4 linked regions of the Homo sapiens genome follow. The protein of the gene in region 4 purifies or fractionates together with the protein of the main gene of each other region. This does not show direct contact. Each region holds a gene or a part of one and is shown on either strand. Other genes may lie near its edges. The genes, in order: CALML3, DSG4, HEPHL1 and OR51E2.

The links.
Region 1: the proteins of OR51E2 (region 4) and CALML3 purify together in Homo sapiens (affinity purification with mass spectrometry; 2 studies listed by BioGRID and IntAct, with this or other methods). This does not show direct contact.
Region 2: the proteins of OR51E2 (region 4) and DSG4 purify together in Homo sapiens (affinity purification with mass spectrometry; 3 studies listed by BioGRID and IntAct, with this or other methods). This does not show direct contact.
Region 3: the proteins of OR51E2 (region 4) and HEPHL1 purify together in Homo sapiens (affinity purification with mass spectrometry; 3 studies listed by BioGRID and IntAct, with this or other methods). This does not show direct contact.

Annotation. Positions count from the first base shown.
Region 1 is NC_000010.11:5,520,761-5,527,280, reverse strand, and holds CALML3 (calmodulin-like protein 3), read right to left. Parts: upstream 2,321-6,520; 5' UTR 2,196-2,320; coding exon 1,746-2,195; 3' UTR 510-1,745; downstream 1-509. UniProt on the Homo sapiens protein: May function as a specific light chain of unconventional myosin-10 (MYO10), also enhances MYO10 translation, possibly by acting as a chaperone for the emerging MYO10 heavy chain protein.
Region 2 is NC_000018.10:31,400,758-31,407,786, forward strand, and holds part of DSG4 (desmoglein-4 isoform 2 preproprotein), read left to right. Parts: intron 1-123; coding exon 124-263; intron 264-2,658; coding exon 2,659-2,877; intron 2,878-5,319; coding exon 5,320-5,616; intron 5,617-7,029.
Region 3 is NC_000011.10:94,016,900-94,024,365, forward strand, and holds the start of HEPHL1 (ferroxidase HEPHL1 precursor), read left to right. Parts: upstream 1-4,454; 5' UTR 4,455-4,469; coding exon 4,470-4,639; intron 4,640-7,466. UniProt on the Homo sapiens protein: Is a copper-binding glycoprotein with ferroxidase activity. It oxidizes Fe(2+) to Fe(3+) without releasing radical oxygen species. May be involved in the regulation of intracellular iron content.
Region 4 is NC_000011.10:4,694,825-4,701,743, forward strand, and holds the start of OR51E2 (olfactory receptor 51E2), read right to left. Parts: upstream 3,030-6,919; 5' UTR 2,838-3,029; coding exon of another isoform or gene 2,829-2,837; intron 1-2,828. Other genes in the region: olfactory receptor OR51C1, read right to left, coding at 2,829-2,837. UniProt on the Homo sapiens protein: Olfactory receptor. Activated by the odorant, beta-ionone, a synthetic terpenoid. The activity of this receptor is probably mediated by G-proteins leading to the elevation of intracellular Ca(2+), cAMP and activation of the protein kinases PKA and MAPK3/MAPK1.

The sequences.
Region 1 (6,520 bases), on a different chromosome or scaffold from region 4:
GGTAACAGTAGCTGCCATTATTAAGCACCTACTACATGCCAGGTGTGTTAAGAATGTTGTTCTGGCTCCTCACAAGTGCTGGAGAGAGGCGCTACCGTAGTTACCATGATGGAGGCACAGGTTGGTGTCAGACCTGTAGCTGAGTGGTCAGGGCACAGACCTGACTGAAATCCCAGGTCTGCCTCTTACCCACTGGTGGGACCCAGGGCTGCTTTCTAAAGCCCTCTGTGTCTCCACTTCCTCGTTTGTAAGATGAGGAAGGTAATAATAGTGGCTGCCCCATAGGGAGGTGCCAATTGTCTATGCAGGCCAAGTGCTTGATGGTGCCCTGAGCCCAAGCAGGTGGCATGAGGGTCCTGTCATCCTGGAGGTCCCAGTGGTGCAGTGATGATGGCAAGGCCGGGGCTGGGGCCCAGCTCTTTGTTTTACAAAGGAGGAAACACTGGGTGTTGGTGGGCGGGGGTGGGGTGTCAGGGAGAGAGGATACATCCACCATGGCCTTTTCTGATGAGCTCCGTCTAGTGCCCATCCCGCAAAACATACCTCCCTTTAGAATTGAAGGGATCTCTGGCAGGGCCCCTTCGACCTTCTCTAGGTGTTGCCAGCAGCTTGCAGGGCTAGTGCAGGACTAACGGCTCTGAATTGCTCTTACACTGTGTGTGCCCAACTGCCCCCCAACCCCTCACCATCTCTAGTGCCTGGCACTTCACAACCAGGGAGCACTTGCCAGGGGGAATCAAAGCAATCAGCAGGTCCCTTCTCAACGTAATGGACTCAGGTCTTTCAAGTCCTGATGGACTTTTAACCACTCTTTGCTGCCAGCGTATCCATTTGATTGAGAATATTCAATATTTCCCTCATCCAGACTTGTCTCTCTCTGAGGCACCTTTCCCGCTCCCCCGTATAGGAATTCATTGCATTTTCAAAAAGCACAAAAATGGAGATTCCTGCCTCGTTTCAACCCTGAATTTAACAAGGATCATTTCCATGGAAACCAAAAAAAAAAAGGAAATGAAATAAGGACGAATATCTCATTTATTTCCCTGCAGCTCTCATCCCCTGCTCATCCAAGCCTCCCTCCTTCCAGATGAATAGGAACAGGTTACAGCTGACCCAGTTTCACTCCCAGCTTCAGAAGATGAATCACGGTGGGTTGGCGGACAAGGAATGGGGCAAGCTGGGGCAGCGCGGAAGGCAGTGCTGTTTTCAGGAGGCCTGACCTCTGTGGCCAGAGTCCCCGTCAGCACCGCTTACTGCAGGCCAAGATGCCTCCCACCCTCCAGAATCCGACCGCGGAGGGAGCTTCCAGTCCAGGAGCCTGCGGGAATCCTGGCGGGGGCTGAGGGCTGCAGCCCCCCTGGCCTGGGCATTGGGTGCCTCTTAGGGATCTTGCCTGGGTGCCCTAAGGGGTCACCCGGTGTCCGTCCTGGAGGGCCGCAGAGTCAGCGCAACCTGCCCTGGTGCTCGGTCCTAAGGTCAGCTCTGCTTCTCCCGAGTGGGGAGGGCGTCACGGTTTGCCTGCAGTGGGAGCGTTCCGTGTCATTCAGACGAGCAGGTGGGAAGGTCGGCAGGAGTGCAGAGAAGAGACGCGGGAAGCGGGATGCAGAGAGGTGGGCTGAATCAACCAGGCGCAGGAGGAAGCCACAGTGCCCAGGGGAGGCAGGGGGATGGGGGAGGAGGCGGGAGGCCCCGGGTTCTTGCCCTGTGGGCCGCGTGGGCGCCCAGGAGCATGGTGGGCGCCGGCCTCACTTGGACACCAGCACACGGACAAACTCCTCGTAGTTCACCTGTCCGTCTCCGTCCGTGTCCGCGGCCCGGATCATCTCGTCCACCTCCTCGTCACTCAGCTTCTCCCCCAGCCGGGTCATGACGTGTCGCAGCTCGGCGGCGCTGACGAAGCCGTTGCCGTCCTTGTCGAACACGCGGAAGGCCTCGCGGATCTCCTCCTCGTTGTCCGTGTCCTTCATCTTCCTGGCCATCATGCCCAGGAACTCGGGGAAGTCCACGGTGCCGTTGCCGTCCCGGTCGATCTCACTCATCATGTCCCGCAGCTCGGCCTCCGTGGGGTTCTGGCCCAGGGACCGCATGACCGTGCCCAGCTCGCGGGTGGTGATGCAGCCGTCCCCATCCTTGTCAAACAGGGAGAAGGCCTCCTTGAATTCTGTGACCTGCTCCTCAGTCAGCTGGTCGGCCATGCCAGGGGTGGGGGCGTGGGTGGCAGAAGAGGCCACTGTGGGGTCTCCCTCCCAGTGCCGCAGCCCGGCTGCTGTCCCAGCTCTGGGGTGGCAGGTGGAGATCCGGGCGGCCGGCGGGCTGTCTCGCCCTGGCTTGAGACGCTGGAGCTTAAGAAGCAGCAGAGTCCTCCCCCATCATTGGCAGACGCCCCTGCCCTGCGGTTGCCCGGGCCTGTCCTGTTTAGACAGGAGTCCAGGGCCTGCGAATCGAGCTGACGCCAGCACCTCTGTGCCTGCTTGCACCTGGACCCAGCAGAGCCACGGGGGCCCCGAATCACACCTGCAGTCAGGGCGTGGTGGGTGAGCTTTGGAGCAATCCACGCTGGACTCCTTCCTCCTGAATTTCCCTTTCTCTCCTCCCTCCCCGTCTCCCACCTGCCGCCTGTCTCCCACTCAATAAACTCCAGTGCCCTTTCTTCCCTTGAGTGGAGGGCTTTTTGCAGGATGAAAGGCAGATGAAAGAAACGTCCTTGCCTTTGGTTTCTAAAGCCTCATATAGAACAGGAGGGTTTTTGGAGGAGGAAGGTTTTCCCTTCAGGTAGAAGCAGCGAGTTTTCTTATCTTCAGAATGGACATGAATAGGGAGGGGTTTCCTCCAACCCATTCACTCATCCACCCTTTCACAGATATTTGAGTGCCTACTAGGTGCAGTGTCACTCTGGAAGCTGGGAACACAGTGGGACCGGCAAGCCACCCCCAGTCCTCGTGAGGTTAACTAGCAAGACAGCTAGTTTGCAGGTCAACTGATCGAGGAATGCAAACAAGGTGACTAGGGATTATTGATAAATGCTGATGGACATACAAGGTGGTGATGGACAGGACCCCGAGGTCACCTTTCAGCCTGGTCAAGGACAGACCTCCTGCTGAGAAGCAGCTGTCTAGGCCGGAGTGGCCATGGCAGGGCCAAGGGCTGGAAGATGATCAGTGGGGCTGCAGGCCTGTGAGGGAGGGGACAAGGAGGAGAGACAAAGGAGACCTTGAAGGGCTCAGCCAGGAAGTCCCACTATCATTCTCTGGTCCACATTGCCCCAGGAGCTCCGGGCAGCATGGAGCTGGGGCTGTGGAGCGGCCTCTCCCAGAGGAGACCCGCTTAGGGGGATAGTGGGGTGTTCACAGCACAGACTCGGCTCCCACTCCCAGGGGGCCTGGAGACATGACCCCCAGAGAGGCAGGAGCAGGCGCTTCACCTGTGGGAATCCAAGAAATCCACACTGGGGGAGAAACATGGAGCCCACTCTATTTTTTGCTGGGTGTGTGGGGGTGGGGTAGAGACCGGAAAGGGAAAGAAAGTGTCCTTTTGAGGACCTGGACTTGCCGAGGAGAGACTATGGCAGGAGAAGGGCTCGGATATTCATTTTTTTTCTCTCTGATTTTCCTTCCCTTCTCTATTCAAGTAGAGGCAAGTGTGTCCTTCTGGTCTGGAGGGGGTCTGTGGTAGGGGGAAAATTGAAGCCACCTGCAAGACACCTTCCTTCCTACCTGAGGGCTCCCACAAAGCCTGTGTCCTGAGGGTTTGGGCAGGAGGAAGCAGGAAGGTTGAAGAATCCCTCCATCCCCATGGAATCTTTTCCTTAGAAGAGAAGTTTGTGGACCCCAGAGCAGCAGGGCTCAGGGATGTGGTGGCCACAGGCAGCCTTGGCAAAGAGCCCTGGGGCCCAGGGGTGGCGTGGAGGGAACGAGGTGATGGGCATCTTGGAAGCCACGTGTGTGGGTGACACTTTGGTGACCAGATCCCACCCTCCCCTCCTTTCTCACCCCAGAATATTCGGCCTTGCCTGAGACCTCACACCCCAACAGCTCTAGGGGAGTGGGGAGATGGGCTGGCCAGGACTCCCTGGGGTAGGAGAGGGGCTGATAATAAAGTTTAGATTTAGAGAGAAAAATGAGGCAGCATCTCCATTTGCAGGCTGGGAGCATGCCCTGGGCCCAGGTTACAGCTCTGTCCACAGGGGGCTGCGCAAGAAAGAGTGTGTGCTTTGCTCCTGGGAGCCCCGCCCTTCCTCGAATATTCTGGAGATCTCTTTTGTGGTGGGGAGACCCAGCAAAGGCTGCACACACAGCTTGCTCAAGGTCACCCCATGAAAAGTTCAGCTGGGGATCAAGGTCCCTTTTTTATTTTGGGGTTTTTTGGGGGCTAATTCTGGGACATGGGGACCTTCTGTCACCTTCTGAGAAGGGCTCTTGATTGTACACTGGTGCCTGATGCCTGAGTGTTAGAATTCATATCCCAAACGCACTTTAAAAATATTTAAATATCTCCGCTCTAGATCACCCGAATACCCAAAAATAGCAGGTTAGTAACAAATACCTGAAATTTCCTCCACACCATGAAATAATACACAGCCTTTAAAATGAGGATGAGGATATAACAATGGAAAGGTTTCCATGGAAAATTTTTAAAAAGCAGATAGAAAACTGTATATGTGATATGATTTCATGTATTAAACATTTATATATGTTTATTTATATACATTCACAGAAGAAACGCCTAGATAATCATGTACCAAACTCTTAATAGTGGATACTTTGGATAATAGGATTATAAGTGCTTTTAATTTTCTTATAAATGTAGTATCTTTGCTCATTTAAAAATGTTTTATATTTGCCATATATCATTTCTATTATTAGGGGAAATGACTGAAGATTCAAAAACCATCCCTGATAAAAAATATTCCATATCTTACTGAACTCCCAATATTCTTTCTCTTTCTCTGAGGTTAGGTAATGTGGAGGGCCTGGTAATATTGTCAGCTTTATATCTCTCAGAGATATGAGACTATGGTGAGCATAGCTATTATTATGTATAGAAAAGCAGAATAATTAATAGCCAATAACCACACCCCCTATTTGACTGCCAGAGTGACCATCTAGTGGAAAAGATGCTATGAAGCATTTTTCTTCTACTTTCCCTGCCTAGGGGCTGGAGAGACTTCTTCATGAAGGAATACAGGGACAGTCACAGGAGACAGGAGCACCAAGGGATTCGGACATGTGGCTGACACAGTCTTCTGGAGAGCCCCGGATGGCATCAGGGGGAAACCTGGCCTGAGACAGTGCCCTGATGGACAAGGACAGGAATACGGTCATACCTCCTGCCCACTTGACCAACGACCAGGATGAGAAGCCAACAGGTAACTGCTGGTTTCTGGGTCATGGCTCTGTGGCTCAAACATTAGCTTTTACCTAAATGTCCTTCTCAAAAAGGCACACTGAAAGAGGACTCAGTGCCAGGTGCAGTGGCTCACACCCATAATCCTACCACTTTGGGAGGCCGAGGCAGGCCTGAACTTGAGGTCAGGAGTTCGAGACCAGCCTGGCTGACATGGTGAAACCTCTACTAAAGGTCTCTACTAAAAGTACAAAAATTGGCCAGGCATGGTGGGTGGTGCCTGTAATCCCAGCTACAGCTACTTGGGAGGCTGAGGCAGAAGAATCACTTGAACCAGGGAGGGAGAGGTTGCAGTGAGCCAAGATCGTGCCACTGCACTCCAGCCTGGGAGACAGAGCAAGACCCTGTCTCAAAAAAAAAGAGGACTCAGAATTTTAAACAGCGTTGCTTAGTGCAAAGTGACTCACAGAGGACCAGGACCGCCTTACGATGGGCCATACTGTTGCAACTCGCTGGTTGGGAAACTGTGACAGAGGGAATGTTTTTTATTTTCTGTTTAACTCTCTCCCTGCAGCCTCTCACCCCAATATAGCAACTCCTTTCCCTACAGAATAGATATTATTTTGGTCTCAGGATACATTTAAACATTTAAAAATTATTGGGGACTCCAAAGAGCTTGTGTTTATGTGGGATATATATATATATATATATATACTGTGTTTGCAACTAAAACCAAGAAATATTTAAATATTTAAGTATATTTTTATATATTTATAACTTAATAGAAATAAACCCATTACTTGTTCACATAAAACCATATTTTTCAGCAATCCCATTACTGGGTACATACCCAAAGAAATATAAATTGCTCTATTATAAAGACACATGCACGCGTATGTTCATTGCAGCACTGTTCATAATAACAAAGTCATAGAATTAACCAAATGCCCATCAATGATAGACTGATAAAGAAAGTGTGGTACGTATACACCATGGAATACTATGCAGCCATAAGAAAGAACGAGATCATGTCCTTTGCAGGGACAGAGATGGAGCTGGAGTCCATTATTCTTTCAAACTAATGCAGGAACCAGATACTGCGTGTTCTCACTTATAAGTGGGAGTTAAATGATGAGAACACATGAACACAACACACACTGGGGCTTACTGGAGGGTG
Region 2 (7,029 bases), on a different chromosome or scaffold from region 4:
GGCAATCATCACTATAAAACATAAAAACACAATATTAAAGTTTGCCACATTGTAGCTGTTACATGATTTAAAAGTACTAACTTTCATAAAAGCATGATAACGAACTTTTTTATTTAAAAACAGATATATCATAGGGCATGATGCAGGCAGCTGGTTAAAAATTGATTCAAGAACTGGTGAGATACAATTTTCTAGAGAATTTGATAAGAAGTCAAAATATATTATCAATGGGATATACACAGCAGAGATCCTGGCTATAGATGGTAAGAAAATTTATTTTCAGTATTTTAAGAAAACTAGTACTATTATATTAAATATTATGTTATTCTAATGCTGATATTTGAGTGACTCAGACATTTTTAATGGTGTATGCAAGACTTATGGAAAGCCCTAAACACCTTAAATCAAGAATTGAAGTCAATTAAAATCATAATTTACACTGAAGCCATAGTTTATTTCATCTACTTCCAAAACTGAGTTGTATATGGCTTACAGCATAAAAGTTAAAATATAATTCATCTTCTGATTATGACTTTGTCTCTTGAGTATGGCTAATCTCACTTGTAGGGTATGTTGGGAATGTTTACTTAAAGTAAGGGCTACGTGCTCTACAAAGTTCATTTGGGGATCACCTTGTGGGAAAGCAATGTCTCCAAGAATACAATTATTTTAGATCCATTAAAACTGAACTACAGTGAGAAGCTTGTGTGAGTGTTGCTTGATTAGACATATTTCCATAGTAAGATGCTATGGACCAAGAAAGCACAGATTATTCCAAATATAAGATCCATATTAAAAGTCATAAATACAGATGCACTGACTTAACTTGTAAGCGAGCCACCTCTCACATGGGTAAATCTGTTAAGCAGTCCTCTTGGTGAGCAGCAACAGGATTTGTTTATTTATCAATAGTTAATGATTCTATGAAGCAGTGCCTAGGAAACCAGCTGCTGTAGAACCAAACAAGAGACAAAGGTCAGGAACCACGAAGGAAGGGGAAAGACAGGCGTCCAAGATACATGCCTAATGTAAGACAGATACTGTAGGTTTGCATTGAGTTTATAGCTGACCTTTCCAGTATCAAAACAAAAATAAAGATAAAGAAGCAGCATAAAATTCAAAAAGAAACCATGATAAAACCAAACCAACTATCATCTGTACATCCTGGGCTTCATCCTGTGGCGGGTAAATTTTAACGCCTGGGTCAGTTTTATAAATAACATTGTCTTATTCATTATCAGTATTCTGGAAGCTCTAATTTGAAAATGGATTCTAACCATGTTGATTGCACCCTATGTTTGCATATTGGTCATATGTGAAAAATCTTCAAATGCTAGAATAAATAATTAGTCATTCCAAGCAAATAAAGAGAGAGAAAGTGCTGTCAAAATGTACCAAGAGAAACCCAGAAACAAAGCTGATTGTTTATTCACCTAAGCAGAGTGTCTGCACTGGCACAGAGCTATCTGAATGGTTGGAATAAGTTTGCTTCAGCACACACCATCATCAGGTGAAGAGACAGACCTCTATGCAGAGCAAACTTTACTGGGAAGCAAACACTATAAGCAATAGCTTGAGCTTTGGTTGCCAATCACAAGGTAATAGAAGAGCTACCAAAGATCAAAGAATGACAAATAAAACAATCTGTGGAATAATCTGATGCCTCTCGAATGAGAAGCTAAGTGAAATCGACATCCTTCATCTAGTAAAAACAAGTCCAATGCTGAATAGGGTATATAAACATATTATACAAAATCATATAGACTATAGGTAGGCTCTCAGTTTATTCTCATTCAGTTACCTCAATGACTACTACTTAGGCACACAGAAAACATCTGTAAAAGGAATTTATTGCTTTCTCAGAAAAGGACCTAGTAAGGTACCCCAGAGACGACAACGTTCTAGTTTAAAAGCGAGAAAGCTAAGATTCTTTTCAAGTTAAAAAGAAGCAAAAAAAATTCCGTATTCGCTGTAACAGAACATAGAGTAGAAAAGTGGACTAAAAAGCTCCTGGACTCCTAATCTTTAGTCTTTGGCCCTTTCTGATTAATTATACTATCCAAAAACTTGTTTCAAGTGGATTAGGGAAAAATCTAATAGACTTATATTTGTTTTCAGAAATGCCATTTCAGAAAGAAATAGCATGTAACAGATGCAATTAAAATAAACAGTGAGCACACAAGAAAAACACAAACAAGTATTTATTTCAGCTGTGGTTATTTCTACAAACACAGGACTCAGTGAGCATCCTGAATGGAGGTTCATAACTGACCTGGGGGTCTAATTTATGGGAACAGGGTGAGATTAGAAACCAGTAAACCTTCTCGGAGGAAGAACATTTGATTTTGCGCCTTAGGATGTGTCAGAATTAGCAAAATGAAATGAGGGTGGAAAACATTTTAGGAAGGGTGAAAAGAATGTGCCAGAGTCCAGAGTAAAAAAGAAACTTGTTTAAAGAACTCAAAAGAAGCAGTGTGGCTGGAAGGTAGCACACAAAGGGAAGAGTGACTTTGGGTCACTGAAGCGGGCAGGAACCTGTCAAGCCTCCCAAGTCACGTATATGTTTCCTACAAGTTCCATGGCATCATCAGGGGATATGAGAAAGAGTTTTCTCCCTAACACCATTTACCTCAACACCAATGACCCTTACTCTTTCAGATGGCTCTGGAAAAACAGCTACAGGAACCATATGTATTGAGGTTCCTGATATCAATGATTATTGTCCAAACATTTTTCCTGAAAGAAGAACCATCTGCATTGACTCTCCATCAGTCCTTATCTCTGTTAATGAACATTCTTATGGGTCTCCGTTTACTTTCTGTGTTGTTGATGAGCCACCAGGAATAGCTGACATGTGGGATGTCAGATCAACAAATGGTAAGTGAAACGTAAGCTTGTTTTTTGGACTTTAAGTCCAAAAGCAAAACAATTACCAAAAAATGTGGCAAGTCACTTAATAAAACATTCTACTTCTGTTTCCACAGTTCTTGCCATATTAACATTAAATGAAAAAAATATTTCATGTACACAGAGGATATTTGATAAAATTTTGAACTGAAATGAAATGAGTCAAAATGTTTCATTAATATTTAATTTACAAATAGTAGTGGATAAATACCAGTTTACCCATCATTTTGAGTAGGTAAAACGTTGAACCAATATTTATTCAGTTTAAAATAAACAGAACCCTTAACAAACTCATAAATTAAGAATGTCACAATTCCCTATTCTGAATAAATTCAGACAAATCACATAAATGTCTCTGAAACTCATATATCCCATAGATACATTTAAACATTTACTACTCACTTAGGAGCACATAAAATCAATTAAATTGTTTTTTACAGTAACTATGAGTTCAGACTTATTTTTAAGGGTAAAAATTTAAATCCAAATTGCTCAGTATTAGAGGAATGATTAAACAGAGTACATATTATTAAGATGTGTTAATATACAGCCATTAAAATTAGAATTATGCAAAGTATGTAGATACAAAAGAATGCATAAACCAAAGAAAGTAAAGTGAAAAACAGATCACGAAGTTGTATATGTATGTATCTTGACTATAACTACATACAATTGAATGGCTGACATCGATAAAAATTAAGAATAAATTTCAGATAACATAACATTTTATCTACCTTGCGTTCTTTTTCCTAAAACGTTAAGTGCATAATAAAAAAGAAAATGCTATGAGAGGATCTCATATGGGCTAAGATAGCTCCCCAATCTCATATTCATTTGGGGCTACAGGGAAAATTTCATGGGCTAGTCGGTGGCCATCAGACTACAGAGCCCAGGGTGAGAGGAAATACTTCCCACCTCTTTAAGGTCACCAAGCCCCTCTATTTACAGAATGGAGAAACCCTAAAATAAGGTGGGGAAAATACCACCAATAAAGTAAGAAATTAGGCAATTTGTTTTTACCATCAAACCTTTAGCTCTTTTCAACAAAACCACTTTAATATTTTTTAAAGTTAATCATGTTAAAGCAATTCCATTAATATCAAGTCAACTCTGAATTCACCATCTCCTATAAAGCTCAATAGCCCATTCATAAACAATAATAATTGCTAACCACTTTTTTCCTCATTCGGATCCTAGATATTATGATTACACATGTAAGAAAAAATGTTCTGCATGGAGGTATAATATTATAGCTATTACAGGTTTGCCAATAAAAAATATAACCACACTGGAGATGATATTCCTAGAGACCTGTTTCAATGCTTGCTGGTGTTTTAGAACAGAATGAATTTCACTTAATGTGCTGTGGCATTGCCTTATCTCATTTTTACCTTGTGCACAGGTTAGATTTTGGTGGACATAGCTGGCTTGCCATCTAGCTAACTGAGGATAATAAACCATCATAATAAAAAATATTGTGTGCTATGGATCAATCAGTTACTATTCATGGTTTAGCTGTAAATTTAATCATCTCAACACTCCTTGTATTAATAAATAAATTCCAATGAATATTTTAGACAATATGTTTTATGAAAATTCATAGGCAATGATAGCACAAAGAATTAGGAGAATGTGAACAATTTTAAATGAAAGGGCAACAATTTTGAGTAAGATACATATAAACAGTCTTAAGGAGGGTATTGTGTAAACTGTAATCCTAAATAGAAGACTTCTAATATTTTCTTTCAGCTCAATATTATTTATTCATTGGGCAAATATTTATTGAATGTATATTATATGCCAATTACTGTTGCTCTGGAAAGATGCAGCAAGGTCCTTGCCTGCATTATAGAAGTAGCAATCCAGCAGTAAGCAATACTTATTTAAAAATTAGTTATAAATGTTAAAAAAAAAAAGAAAGAAAGAAAAGTAAAAAAGGCCAGGCAGAATGGCTCATGCTTGTAATCCAAGCACTTTAAGAGGCCAAGGCAGGTGGATTGCTGGAGCCCAGGAGTTCAAGACCACCCTGGGCAATATGGCAAAACCCTGTCTCTACTAAATGTATATATATTAGCCAGGCATGGTGCCACACACCTGTAGTCCCAGCTTCTCAGGAGACTGAGGTGGGAGAATCACTTAAACCTAGGAATCCAAGGCTGCAGTGAGTCATGTTCGTGCCACTGCACTCCAGCCTGGGCAATAGGAATGAGACTCTGTCTCAAAAATAACAAGAATAATAATAATAATAATAAATTAAATAAATGTTAAAAAAAAGTACAAGGTGCTTTATGACTAAGAAAGCATGAAAAATCTAGTGTTTTAAGTCAATATTTGGTATTAGGGAGAGTTAACCACCCCCCTAGCCCACCAAGGAATTTCCATTTATTTTCTGTTTCCTCTCTTCCATTTCAGCTACCTCGGCAATCCTTACGGCTAAGCAGGTTTTATCTCCAGGATTTTATGAAATCCCAATCCTGGTGAAGGACAGCTATAACAGAGCATGTGAATTGGCACAAATGGTGCAGTTATATGCCTGTGATTGCGATGACAACCACATGTGCCTGGACTCTGGTGCCGCGGGCATCTACACAGAGGACATAACTGGTGACACGTATGGGCCTGTCACTGAAGACCAAGCTGGAGTTTCAAATGTTGGTCTTGGACCAGCAGGGATTGGCATGATGGTTCTGGGCATCCTGCTACTGATTTGTAAGTACTCAATTAAATCCTTCTTTTCAATAGTTCTTCAAAATAGGGCTGTTACGAGGCTCGCTGGGATGGTTAGGTTCATGGAGCCATTTCTTTTTGGTATCTCTAGCAATTTTTGAGTGCCTTAGAAATAAACAATGGGACTGACAAATATATGCGCTTAATCCACAATGATAACTAAGAAAGCCTAGGGTGAGTGACAGTCCTAAAAATGGGAAACACATGCAAATCACTACATATACTACCTAAAAGCACAAAACAAATCCCATCATGGAAATTTCCTTAAAATGCTTTAAGAGTAGAGAGGCAGAAGCAATTAAGTCCATGTGGAAAAGTTAGGACAATCTTTTGGAAAAGTGGATTTTGAGGTGAGCCTGAAAAGCTGAGGATTTTTTTTTTCTTTTTTTCTTTTTCTTTTTTTTGAGATGGAATCTTGCTCTATTGCCCAGGCTGGAGTGCAGTGGCGCAACCTCGGCTCACTGCAACTTCTGCCTCCCAGGTTCAAATGATTCTCCTGCCTCAGCCTCCCGAGTAGCTGGGACTACAGGCGCCCACCACCACGACTGGCTAATTTTTGTACTTTTAGTAGAGACGGGGTTTCACCATGATAGCCAGGATGGTCTTGAACTCCTGACCTCGTGGTCCACCTGCCTTGGGCTCCCAAAGTGCTGGGATTACAGGCATGAGCCACTGCACCCTGCTGAGGATTTCTTTTAAAGGAGGATGATGTCTAAGGAAATTTGAAAGGTAATCAAACACACACACACAAAAAAAAACCACACACACAAACAAAAGGGAGCAAGATATGGAAGAGCATAGCACACCTAGGAAGCAGAGAGGCAAAAGGGAGTCTGGGAGCCAGCATGGAGGCATGTTCATGACACACCAGGCATTCTGGGCTTCAGTACAATGGCACAGAAGAGTTGATGAGGGCTGATGAGCGCAGGTGACCCTGCGGTAGGAAGCAAGTAGAAGAGACTAGAACAGAGAATTAGCCTCTGGGCTCTGGGTGAGTGCCTAAACTAAGACTGGTCACAGAAGTGGAAAGATCACCAAACAAAAATTTCCCAAAAAGGGCCCTCCTTTCCCCATAGAGTTTTTTTAAACATATAGATCCTCAGAGGAAGAATACTTCATACATTTTAGGTTGCCCTTGCAATATTTAGGTTTCATGGGGATCAAAAGCTGGGTTCTAAAATTAAAGAGAAGTAAATTTGTCAAACTGTATTGTTGCTGTTTTCAGGGATGAGCACTAATTAAAATGTAATCATTTCAAGGCATAAAAAATAACAGCTGACTTTTGGTGAGGATTTCTTTTTTGAAATAATCTGTGAGGTTTCAAAGCTATGCAAAGATCATGAGTGATTCTCACAATGATATTAGACACATTTTCCCAGAATATAACTCTACAGC
Region 3 (7,466 bases), about 89 Mb from region 4:
AATGAATGTTGTTTTCATGTCTGCTAACACAACATCCATTCCGTATGTCATAGATCAAGGAGTAACTGAATTTCAATCTTATTACTTGAGAAATACCTTTCTTGAGGCTATAGGTGCCATAGATAGTGATTCCTCTGATGAATCTGGGCAAAGTAAATTGAAAACCTTCTGGAAATAATTCACCATTCTAAATGCTGTTAAGAATATTTGTGATTCATGAGAGAAGGTCAAAATATCAACATTGACAGGAGTTTGGAAGAAGCTGATTCAAACCCTCATGGATGACTTTGAGAGGTTCAAGACTTCAATGGAGGAAGTAACTGCAGATGTGGTGGAAGCAGCAAGTGAACTACAATTAGAAGTGGAGCCTGAAGATGTGACTGAATTGTTGCAATCTCATAATAAAATTTACATGAATAAGGTGTTGCTTCTTATGGATGAACAAAGCAAGTGGTTTCTTGAAATGGAATTTACTGGTGAAGATGCTGTGAATATTGTAGAAATGACAACAAAGGATTCAGCATATTACATAAACTTAGTTGATAAAGCAGGAGCAGGGTTGGGAAAATTTATTCCAATTTTGAAAGAAGTTCTTTTATTGGTAAAATACTATTAAACAGCATCATGGGTTATAGAGTAATCTTTCATGAAAGGAAACCAAATGATGTGTCAAACTATTGTTCTTATTTTAAGAAGTTGCCACAGCCACCTCAACCTTCAGTGACCACCATCCTGATTAGTCAGCAGCCATCCACATTGAGGCAAGACCCTCCACAGCAAAAAGACTGACTCACTGAAGACTCAGGTGATTGTTAGCATTTTTAAACAATAAGGTATTTTTAAATTAAGGTGTGTACATTTTTTAGACATAATGCAATTGCACACACACTTATAGACTGTAATATTGTGTAAACATAACTTTTTTTTTTTTTTAGATAGGGTCTCCTTCTGTCAGTGAGGCTGGAGTGCAGTGGCATGATCTTAACATACTACAGCCTCGACCTCTTGGGCTCAAATGATCCCCCCACCTCAGCCTCCTGAGTAGCGGGGACTATAGGTGCACCCCACCATGCTTGGCTAATTTTTTTGTATTTTTTATGGTGACAAGTTTTGCCATGTTGCCCAGGCTGGTCTCAAACTTCTGGCCTCAAGTGATCCTCTCACCTTGGCCTCCCAAAGTGCTGGGATTACAGGTGTGAGCCACTGTACATGGCCTAAGCATAAGTTTTATACGCACTGGAAAACCAAAAAATCCATGTGATTCGCTTTATTTTGATATTCACTTTATCATGGTGGTCTGGAACCACACCTGCAATATCTTCAAGGTGTGCCTGTACCATAATTTCAATAAAATGTGATTTAACCCAGCATTATCTTTCTCTGCTATTGATGCATGATGTCAAATTTACCTTATCTGAAACCTGGTGAATGTTTTGAGGAATGGAGTGAATATTTAGAACTGGCCATCTCACATAATAAATGCTTGATAAATGGGTTTCTTGACTTTAAAAAAATGTCTGACTAGTGTTCAATGGAGTTGGAAGTATTTGCTAACATTATTACTTACACAGGTTACTTAATCAAATTTTAAACATTGTCAAACATATCTTGTATGTAACTGTGGGTTTTTAAAAATGAGTGTTGATATGATAATTCACAGGTTTCCTAATAAAATTTAGACACTGTCAAACACATTGGGCGTGGAACTGTCGCTTTTCTGAAATGAGTGTCACAGGAACACTGCATTGTCTCATACCAGTTTATTTTCTTTAGCTCCTATGGCATTCCAATGCTCTTTGAGTAACACCTTTATTGTCCTAGGATAAGGAAGAATTTAAGAGAGCTTTCCAGAACCCTATTTCATTGTTTTTAATAAATTCTTTCCCACTTTTGGCCCTCTGTAAGCAAGTTCTCTGCTACAAATAGATTAAATGCGTTGACTTCATCTGCTATAGTGACTCAGATTTCTTGACCTGATCTATTCTGCAGATCTAGTTTTTGAATCAGAAGTTAGGTAATGCCTTCTCCTGGGTTTTAATTATATGCGTTCAGTATCTTGGGTAAGAAAGTTAACTCTTTTGTCTTTTTGAGCTGTATCACTTATACCTTTTTTTTTCTCCTGTCCAAAAAGGGGGGAATATGTCCTAATAACGTCTTTGATACGCCCAAAATAGCCAGCTTCTCTGGGATGTAAGCAACAAGATATTTGGTTTGGGACATTTCCAAATTCCACAACCTTTTTTTTTTTTTTTTTTTTTTTTTTTTTTTTTTTTGTGAGACAGAGTCTCGCTCTATCATCCAGGCTAGAGTGCAGTTGTGAGATCTTGGCTCACTGCAACCTTTGCCTCCAGGGTTCAAGAGATTCTCCTGCCCCAGCCTCCCTAGTAGCTGGGACTACAGGCATGCACCAACATGCCCGGGTTATTTTTGTATTTTTAGTAGAGACAGGGTTTCACCATATTCGGCAGGCTGGTCTCGAACTCCTGACCTCAGGTGATCCACCCACCTCGGCCTCCCAAAGTGCTGAGATTATAGGCATTAGCCACTGCGCCTGGCCAGATTCCCCATACTTTGAACTCCCTACTTCTTCTGAGGCCAACCTCAGGCCTACCACGTAAGTCCTCCTCTATAGTGTCCGTTGAAGTGCCAGACTCATACGAAGCTCCCAAACTCATGTTGAAGAGGAGATTTTAGCTAAATGGAAATGTGCTGTGGCAATTATTCTACCAGTGTCCTTGATACAACAAACAAATCAGTAAATCAAAGTTGTAAAGAGCCTGGCTATGAAACAGGATACTCAGTATGTATTTTATTATTTATTTATTTATTTATTTACTTATTTTGAGAAGGAATCTTGCTCTTGTTGCCCAGGCTGGAGTGCAGTGGCACAATCTTGGCTCACTGCAACCTCCACCTCCCAGGTTCAAGCGATTCTTCTGCCTAAGCCTCCCAAGTAACTGGGATTACAGGCGCCTGCCACTACGCCCGGCTAATTTTTGTATTTTTAGTACAGACAGGGTTTCACCATGTTGGCCAGGCTGGTCTCAAACTCGTGACCACAGGTGATCTGACTGCCTTGGCCTCCCAAATTGCTGGGATTACAGACCTGAGCCACCGTGCCTGGCCTTTTATTAATTAAGATGAATGCTAATACAAACTGTGCTATGGGACATTTATAGGGTAGCTACCATTTAAAGAAAAAGAATTCTCTTACTTGAGACTGGTGGAAGGCATGGCAGATAGGACTTTGGCAAAGAATAGTGGAAAGAAAGTTGAAGACTGCGGGGAAACACAAGTCTGTGGATACACAGGTTGATACAGTCTCTCTTAGAGGGCATGAATGGGCAGGAAGGACTTTAACACTTACTTAGTACCTACCCTATGCTAGGGGCTGGGGTAAGCACTTTGCAGACATCATCTTTTAAAAAGTTCCTTAAGAATCCCTCAATCCTTCTTCTATAGTCTCCAGCTCAATGATGTTAAGTGATTCCTCCATGCCACTAAATTGGAAAGTGGTGGGAACTCACATTCAAACCCAGGTCTGACCAACTTCAAAGGCCAGGAGGCTGTTTCCTTCATTCCATGGCTGCTCCCTCAAGAGTAACTGTGCATGGGGATAAGAGTAACTCTTTTCCAAGGTTGATCAAGGTCTCTTTCAATACCGAGATTCTGGGACACAGATTAGAAGACACAGAAGAATGGCCCAGCCTTTTCCACCCAAAGACCTGTTACTGAATTTTGTCTCCATGTGTCTGAAGGGTACTTCCCCATCATCATTTTCATTCATCCTAAGAAAGGCGGCTCCCTGTGTGGAGGTGGTGGCCGCGAACATTTTGGCTGAACTGAGCAGTCAACCTTCTCATTTTTGCTGGAAGGATTTGAGAGAATATGGGGGAGATGGTACACGAGCCAGTGGAGGATTAGTGGGGTTTTATGTTGTTGTGATGAACTTTATGATGTTAGTTTGTGGTTTCACATAGCCTCATAAAACAAGCTGGATGGTGATTATGTCACTTCCTCTGCCCTCCCGACAGAGAGGAGGCCTTCTTTAGTGCCTGGAGTGTTTCCTGATGCTCCACTCAGGCCAGCTCACTTTTCAGATTTTAATGTAAGAGGTGTGGAGAAGAAAAGAAGAAGAAGGGGTGGGGGAAAGCCATCGGCTCAAGTAGTCACACTGTCATCCTGGCTGACAAATGACTGATGTCAGAGCATGGTACCGAAACGTATAGAAACAGGCCTGTTGGCTTGGGCAATACATAAATGAGCCAGTCACACATTTCTCGGATGGCTGGCAAAAGTTTTGTTGTCAAAGCAACGCCCCCATCGAGCTTGCTTTGCTTACGCAAGGCCTCAGCCTTTGCCTCTTCCCCAAACCCAAGCTACCTGAGGAGGAGGAGCTGAGTGAGGGGGAGGGACCAACAGATTTGTCCCCTGTGCAGGCTGCCTGCCTGCTTGAGTTACATCCACAAATGCCTCGGAAGCAGCCAGCTGGCTGCATCTTTCTCCTCACATTCCTGGGTCTGTCTGGGCTGGTTGGCACAGTTACCAGAACGTACTACATTGGGATTGTGGAAGAATACTGGAACTATGTACCCCAAGGGAAGAATGTTATTACTGGGAAAAGTTTCACAGAAGACAAGTGAGTGAACTTAGGGTCCTCATTGACTCCCAGGTTTGGCCTCTTTTTGACTTTGTGTGGGGAAGGTTGTATTTCTTGGGTACTTACAATGGGGGTGAGTTGATCTAGACCAAGAGAAGGTGTTTTGTTTTTTGCTTGAAGAGCCCTAGTATGGATGGGTGTGTAATCTGGAAGAGATATTCATAGCTCCATGTATTTGTTGAGCCACCTATTAATAGCCTTGCCTGTGAAGGGACATATACACAACCAGGTGTTTGACAATTTCCACCAGGTACTACTAGTAACTTCTGGGGGATTCTGTTTGTTTGTTTGTTTTTAAATGACAACACTTGGGATGAAGATTTGAGAAATTTCAAGAATTCCTTATGGTTAAAACACAGTGTTTTCTTAGTTTGTATTTCTGGAATGAAACATCATAATGGGAGATAAGTATGCTAAGTCATGTTTTTCAACGTTTAAAAGAGGGGGAAGTCACAGGAGATTTGCCTGCTATTTTCAGGGTTTCCTTGAGTCTACTTAGAATTAGCGCTTTCACTGGTAAAAAGTTTATTCCAGCTCCAAGTCATTCTTGCTGAGGGCAATATCTTATCCCAGAACCTATAGCATAGCTAGGTGAGATGGCGCCACGGTGTTCTATGTTCCTGATTTTTAATTTGGGGCAGAAAATAACCCTTTCTCCCTGCCCCCTCCAGGGCCTAGTATCTTAACCATCTAATTTGTTTCATGGATCTCCCTCTGAAGTCACCTCCTGACTCCAGAAGATGTCATGCTATTTTCAACTTTGTGGTTATTAGAACATCTTTTCAGATGTTTTGGCAACCTCTGTTGGATATTTGAATGCTTGCTTCTTTTCTGACAGGCAGAACCAGTTGCATTCTGCATCCATGTTCCATTTCCTAAAGATGAGTTTAGTTGATAAAATTCAGGAACAGCACAGGGCCTACCAGCAAGTCTTTAAGAGCCAGGGCCCCTTGTCTTTGAGGAAAGACCAAAGATCCAGTTGGCTTGGAAATACAGCTTCCAAGTTTTCTAACAAAACAAAGGTGGTATAGTCATGTTTTGTTTACCAAAGATGAAGCCTGTGCCAGACAAGCTGCCAAGGCAGACTTTTCCTTAAGCTTTGTACCTGGAAATGTAATGTCTGCAGGGCTATTTCCAAAGGAAACTCTTGATTGCTTTCAATCCCACATCTGCTGACCATTGGTGGTAGTGTCTTTACTGTGATGAATAGCTATGGGATTGAAAGGGTACCAAAAATGCCAGGAGCCTTCTCTACAAATAGAGCTCTGCTATTCTCAGAGAGGGCTCAGTAGGAAACAGTCAATGTGAGCAGCTACTGGGGATAAGAATGTTGAAAGTGTGTACACTGAGTGTAATGAATATAGCGTTTAAGCTAAATGTGATACTGGATTGCCTTTCCATAAGATTAACACCCACAGAAATTCTTCTTCCTAAAATGCCCACGTCACTATAGCTGTGTATGGGCATTTATTCTGACCCAAAAATTCTATGAGGGATTTTTCAATTCATTACTGCTTGCAGATATTATTATTCTCATTTTATGAACCAGGAACCAAGGCTCTGAGGTTAAATACTTGCCGGAGTTTATAAGTAAGTGGTAGCACCAAACTCATTGCTTTGGTTCCACAGCCCATATTTCTTTTCACCACACAATCTGTTTCTTGGTAAAGGTGATCCTTCTCCAGTGAATTAAAACAACTTTGAGGGAAGCCAAGGATCACAGTAATAAGAACTTTCTAGAAAGTCCTAATTTTTGCCAAAGGCATGTTTAGTCTCTTTTGTCACTCTTCCTAGAAGCATATTGAAAGGGATCACTGGTGGTCAGTGACCAAACAAGTTATCTGGGTTAATTCAAAACCTCAAAGAATCATAAATACTCAAGTACTACAATGCTGTTTTCACAAAGTGGGGTGCTGGAAGAAGTTGGGGTCTCTGTTGATCATTTCAACCAGAAGATGGTGCTTTGATGAAAGTACAATAAAACATATAAAAATTGCTATGGTGAAAAAGAAAATAGGCATGATGAAAACAGTTGGTTTGGCATCAGATTTGAGTGAGATGGTTTCAAAATGCATGGTCCCATATGATAGTGCGTTTGTTCTTAGAAGCAGCTGGCATGCTAAGGTGTCATACCTAGAACGCCAAGGTCCCCAAACATTTCTTTCTGGTATGCGAAGGGACAGAGTTTGTGTCAGACAGACTGCTACCTCTTGGAAGGGAAATCCAGGTGAGTATGCAGTGGACGTTGGCTTTTATCAGTGATCCCATCAGAATACTGGTTTTTATCAGTGATCCCATCAGTGCTAGTAGTTGTGGTAGGTGGCTCAGACAAGTTCCTAAAAAGGTAGGGCTGTCGTAGGTGGCTGACATTGCTTGTGGACCACAAGATATCCATCCTGGGTGTATGTGAAGATGCTGTGACTGGGACATAAGTGGAGTTCAGTGTGTGTACTCTGTGTTGTGCCATTTCCCCAGGAGCAGGAAGGAGCCATCGTGGATGATGTAATCATGCCCCTCTCTCAGCCTCCTGGAGGGTGAATAGGCTGCCTTTCTGAGGACAGTCTGTTGTTTTGGATATTCACACTTGGGCAAATGTCTGATATTTAAAGGACCAGGAGAGCCAGGTGCTCAGAATTCCACCATGAATGGAAAGAACCTGAAATAGAAATCCAGAGACCTAACTTCTAATGCTTGCTCTGCCCAACTTGCTGTGTAATCTTGAACATGTCATATAATCTCTCTGAATATCACTTTCCTTAATTTGTGTAAGAAGGGAGTTGAAATGTAATCCCTAGAGTCACTTGAG
Region 4 (6,919 bases):
ACATGAATGTGTCTGTGTGTGTCAAGAAGAACTAGTTCCAAGAATGTTAACAGAATGTATGCTTTATAACTGTGTGAAGTTTTGATGGGTAAATGTGAGTTTATAAGGATGAAAAACAGGGGAAGTGTGCTTTTGCAGTGCCGTTGATAAAATGAGGAGAGACATGAATGAAAGAATAACATAAGCCAGTTTGTTGGATAACTACAAGAGAAGGGGTATATCGAAGTCTTAAATGTGAGGCTAGGTGCTGTGGGAAATGAAGCTAGAGAAAGCACCAGAGGTCAAATCATGAAAATCTTGAATTCCATGGACAGTGTAATGAACTTAAATTTTTGCAGAGCATCAAGAGCCAGACATTTCTAACATTTTATTCACCTTTTATTGACCACTGGAAGCAAGGAGCTTTGCTTTTAATAAATAAATCATTTTCCATCTCTTCTCATTTAATGCCAACAAAATTCCTTTCCCTCTTTAGTATCTTGTTTAGTGCCATTGGTTGCTTTTTTGAAGTCTGCAATACTCAAGTTTTACTCTAACTCAACAATAAAAGCTTCCCACAGTTTTGTATAGATATTTCCAAACAATTCATTTCAACCAGGATATATTGAATAGTTTTCATAATTAGCCTTGTGCTTTGATAGTGAGGGATACAAGACATAAGCCCTGTTTCTCTCTCAATTTCCTGCTGTATCTTTTATAAGGATAAAAATTCCTTTGGAGAACAGTCTGCTTTTGTTTATTATTCCTTCACCTTCAGTAACAATCTGAATTCTTTCCCTAATGACTCTGAAAATCCTCCAAATGATGTCACCCGTGATTTTCTACATGCCAAGTCCAAAAGTTTAATCTCAGATTTGTTTTTCTCTCCCTCATCTCAACTTTCAGCAATGTTTACCTCCTCCTCCTTGAAACTTTCTCCTTCATTAGCTTCAGTGATGGTTATTCTGTGAGGTTTTTTTTTTTCCTGTTTGTTAAACAATGGTTTTGTTCTCTGCCTTATAAATTGTGGGATTCTAGAGGAGTCTGCTTTTCTCCCAAGAAGTACCTCTTCTTTTCTTGCTTTTCATATGCTCTCCTTGAGATATCTTGGTTATTCTCATGGCTTTAAATAGCACTTATATCCAGAAGACTCATAAATCTGCAATCTAATTATGGCATCTCCAGAGTTCTGTATTTTAAAAGTTAGCAGAATCTTTAACGCTGTGGCAAAGTTTCTGGTTTTAAGCGTAAAGGTAGTAATGAGACATGAAAATACAGTGAAGCAATCAAACCTGTAATTTAGAAAAATAATTGACAGCATTTTGGAGAACAAAGCTCCTTGCTGCATGTGGTGAATAAAAAGTAAATAAAATACTGTGGCTACCCCTGAGGGACATCTCTACCCATCATCACTCAGTTACTTCAACTTCTATATGAGACAAATGGAACTCATTCTCTCGTCCCCTCCAAACCTGGCTCTTCCTCCTGCTTCATTTATCAGCAAACGACATCGAACTCTAGTAAATCATTGAATTAAAATTACTACCCACCACACACACACACATGTGTGCACACACATACCCTCCTCTTTCTCTCTCTCATCCCTTACATATAAAGATTAGTTTTTAACTGATTCTACTCCTGAAATGTAAAAGATGAGAACCTCGGGAGGTCTATATAAGAAGGCCAAGCAATTGTTAGTAGTGGGTATTTGCAGCTATTATTTCATTGCATTTTTCTTACATTGAAAAAATCTTAAGTGTTTATATTCAAGACAAGAGGGGGACTAATGAATATCCTTAGAAGGAGGCACTAAATTTCCCCCAAGCTTCTCTTTTGTGCTGCCTTCACTCTAGAATCTTTCCGACCCATCCTCTCCAATCCATATATACTTTCATTTTCTCTCTTGTGAAATAAGCTATATTCTCTCAACTAATTTTTCTGCCCACTCGGATTACAATGATGCTCCTCTTTCATTGCACTATTATAAGCTATAGCTTGTGGCTGTCTTAATCTGCTGAACTAGACCTTATAGTGTCATCAGTATTCTCCATGCTATTGTCAATGGTATGGCTATCATGTGTGACTGACCTGGGTTCAGATTCTTGCTCAAACACTAACTAGTTTTGAGACCATCTACACCATTAATAAAAATATTACTCATAGAAATAGCTACCATTTACTGGACACGTGTTCTGTGAACATTATTGTCCTCAGTGCTTTATAAGCATTATTTTAATTCTTACTATGTCATCATGTGACAAGTATTATTAGATTCACTTTAAATTCATTTTTCTGGTAAAGACACTGAGTATCAGAAGTCTGAAACATATTTGAAATCACATACAACTGGTGAAAGTCAGAGCTGAATTTTTAACTCAGGTCTTTTTAATTCCAAAGCTCGTGCTCTCAAAAACAATTGTTTTACTGAAATCTACAAGTAATATAAACTTTCTGTGACCCAGTTTCCTCATCTATAAGACAGGATATGCGCTGTGTCTAATACCAGTAGCTGGCAGGCAATGCGTTCGAAATTGGTAACTTTTCATTTTTAGTAATAGTTATTGGGCATAGAAATGAGATTCACTGACTGTGATAAATATATCAGCACACTGATTAAACCATTTGACTAAAAACAAGTTATCTAACCTATATCAGGCAGAACGAAATACCCATTCTCTACGTATTTCCTGGGAATAAATAATTCTGAAATTCTACCGTCCTCCTCAGCCCACCATACCAACATCTAATCTAATTCTGCACATTGTGAGGAAATTACTCCCTGTGGGTGAGAAAGTCCAATTCATCTAGAGTCAAGCATTTTCATTGAACAAAACAGTTTTACTTACAGAGCCCATACAGCAGTTCGGCCTGTTCCTTTCAGGCTGACTCAGAAGGCTGAGGAGGCTTTAGATTCCAGGGGAGGGCCGAGCTTGCAAATATGAGGAGACTTATTCCAGCCTGACTGGAGACAGGCACAGAGCTGAAAGGCCAATTCCTGGTGGTGGTGCTAACTCACTGTGTCTTCAGGGTGTGGAGATTCCCAGAAGACTTCTTTTGCCTCATACAGTCCTTTTATATCTGTTCCATTATGCAATTACTTACGGTGGCTATGTGCTTTATGGGCTGATGTAACCTTTTTTTCATGTGTCATTTCACTCAAAAGCTTTTTTATTTAACAGCTTTATTGTTATATCATTCACATACTATAAAATTCACCCATTTATAGTGTATGATTCAATTTTTTTTAGTAAAGTCACAGAACTGTGCAAGAACCATCATCACAATTCAATTTTAGAACATTTTTTATTACCCTTAAAAGGAACCTCATAATCACTAGCAGTCACTCTGAAGGAGATTTTAAAAAACGAAATATTGTAGCAAATTGCTAAATGACATCTCCCATTATGAGTGAGAGTCCAACTCCACCCCTTAACTCCTCAGTATCTATGATTATTCACAGCAGTATGGTTTCATTAGCCCACCTGTGGTTCTTTGCAGCAGCAGTCTTTCTCTTACAGATAAAAAATAATTCATTTACTCATCCATACATATATCCAGTAAATATTTCATAAGAATGTCCCATATTCTAAACATTATACTCAGTGATAGAGTTTTTTTTTTTAAGAATACACCATAATTCTTACTGTTTAGGATTTTAGTGTAGAAGATAGACAGGTTAACCAATAATTACATGTTAACCAATGATAAGGTTATCCTAGAGGCATGAACCAAATGCTTGGTGAATACAGTAGGTAAAAATCTTGGTTCACAACTTACTTGTGTATAAAATACGGTTTCATTTACTTTTTTATAATTTGACCTATTTCGTATTTTGAAGTCCCAACCTACCAGGTTGAAGAGAATTAGTCACAATAATTTGGGGTTCTCTCTACTTATAGTCAAATTTTGAAAATCTTGTATTATACCAAGAAAAATTGCAGGTAGGTGGGTGATTGACTTGGCCAATGATGTCACCTTCTGTCAGTTTACTATCACTCTCATTAGTCTTTAATAAATAGAATGCATAGATTGCTATAAGTTGTCCATCTTTTCTCCTTATGGCCTCTTTAGATCCTTAGATATTCCCACCAATTTGGACCACACTTGGGCATATGGGTCTTTGATTCATTCTCAGTTTCTGTCTCTTACACCCTGCATTTAATCCATTGGTAAATTATGTCAATCTCTTTGAAAAATACAATCAGAAATTGATCACTGTTTATCATCTCCAGAAATGTCACCTTTATTTAAGTCACAATTATCTCTCACTTGGGTAACTTCAGTAGTTTCCTAACCATTCTCCCTGCTTCCGATATTATCTCCTCTCCACTATCAAATCTGTTTCACTACTGAAAATGTCATGGCCTGAGATATTTTCTTCTTCATAATGTAATAAAAACAATAAATAACAAGAACAATAATATTTTATTATGCATTCTACATCCATGATACTAGGCCAAGTGTTTGTGGTAGACAGGATAATGGCCCCTAAAGATACCTATGTCTTAATGCCTGGAACCTGTGAATATGTCACCTTACATTGCAAAGGGACTTTGCAGATGTGATTAAAGTTAAATAACTTGAGATGGCAAGATTAGATGGATTAGCTGGGTGGATCCAATATAGTCACACGGGTCTTTAAAAGTAGAGAACCAGAGAGATGGCAGCATGAGAAGGATTTGATCCACTGTTGCTGGCTTTGAAGATGGCAGAAGGAGGCTACAAGCCAAGGAATGTGGAAAGCCTCCAGAAGGAGAAAAGAAGATAATTGATTTTTCCCTAGCCCCTCCATAAAGAAATGCAGCCTGGTGATTCCTTGATTTTAGCTCAGTGAGATCCATGTCAACTTTTGACTTACACAACTCTACAATAATAAATTCAGTAGAAGAATCCATTATTAGTTTGATTTATGTCTTAAACCATGTTTAAACCAAAAATTAGAGTGTAAGTAACTTACCTAAGTTTCTCAGTTATAAATGGCACAAGTAGTATTCAAAGCCTCGGCTATCTGACACCCTCTCAGTTTTCAAAACTCATTTTCTAAACAGTCTTCACATGACTATCCATTCACCACTACTTTCAATTTGAGTCATCTACACCCAAAAGCCTGCATGCATGCTGATGTGCCAAACTGAATGTTAACAGGTTGTCACTTGTGCATGCTTATTCCTTGCACATAAAGGTATTTTATTGTTGTGTTTCCGCACAGGAAACTTCTTGAGACCTTTGAAAACACTTTCTCTACCAAGTTGGGCAAATTGTAGGGCTGTGACTCTTTTCCCATTAGTCTCAGAAACTATTTGGGAATAGTCACATATTTTTATTCTTATGGTTGAAAGAATGTTACTCTTATAAGAAAAATAAAGTTACTATAGTGGTACCATGTAAATTCTGTGCCAGAGCTTAGTACATGAAAATGAAACTAGTGTGTGTACTGGTTAAAGCACCAATACACACACTGGCACACTACGTCAAAATATGGCTCTTCTCACTGCCCTATTCTCATGCCAGCCTAGCAGAACAGTAGCTGGTAATTTAACTAAACTTTCTGAAAATTTGAGTTCAATGTTCCTCCATGAAATCATACAGCAACACATCTTATTAATACATTAATATTAACTCCATTGAGTCCAGGAAACATATCATAGTCTGTGATGTCATTTGACTTCATATTAATGTTTCTGAAACTTGGTAATCCAAACAGGAAGTACCAAATTGGACATAGGAAAACTCTGCACTAGGAACTTGAAGTAAGTCTTATTTATTGACTGTCAACATTTACTACGGTAAACAGTAAAATATTCTTGGCTATCAAATCAGCAAATGTTTTTTAAAACACATAATACATAGTGTTGTGTTGCTGTGTTACAGTGGACTAAGCATTGTTTTACAATGTTTGCATGAACTTTCTGGAAGCATATTTTCCAGTATATTGTTGTCTTAAAATGTCCATAATATTCCATTTCTAAGAATTTATTGAAAGGAAGATATCAGAGATGCAGGCCATATTTTATGTACAGGAAAATTTATTGCCCCATTATTTACAGTGGTAAAAAATATAGATAAAAATTCTCAATGATACAGAATATATAAAGCATTTATATCGAGTCCTGGGATGTTATGCAACCTTTAAAATTTGTGCATATACCAGCTCAAGTGGATGGTCATGCTTGATCAGGAAATAGAAAAACAAGTTTCAGGGCTAAGACTAGCACAAGGAGCAAACAGTTTAAGATATAAAAGAAACAGGGTTTGATACAGGAGCAAGAGGCCAGAGGCAAAACAGGTAATCCAGGGTTAATGCATTGAAATTGTAGAAATAAACTTAAAAGAGAACAAACAATAACAACAGCAACGAAAACGGGTTGCTGTGTGTTACTGTTTGAATATGTCTCCCATGTTGGAAATTTAATTCCCAAAGTCATATCTTGATTAGATATGAAGACTTTGGGAGATAAGTTGGATCAGATAAGGTCATCATGATGGGACTGGTGGATTTATAAGAAGAAAAAGAGATCTGGGCTGACACAAATGCCCTTGCCCTTTTGCCATGTGATGCCCTCCACCATGTAATGGCAGCACAAAACCTCTCTCCAGAGGCTGGCACCATGCTTTTGAATTTCCTAGCCTCCAGAACTGTGAGCTAAATATACTTCTTTCCTTCACAAATTACCTAGTATTTGGTATTCTGTTATAGCAAGAGGAAATAGATTAAGACACTAAGTCAAAAACCATTTTGTTTATACTACTGTTCAGAAAAATTATTAGAACTCCATATGGCCTACTAGCCCTCCATGGTCTGATGAAAGCCTCACTCACCTCTTTTCCTGGATCCAGCCATGTTGGATTTAGCAGTTTTCCTACCCCGTTGATATGGCTAACACTGACCATTCAATTTTGGTGTATATAGAAATGTCACTCCTCCTTACCTCTCCCT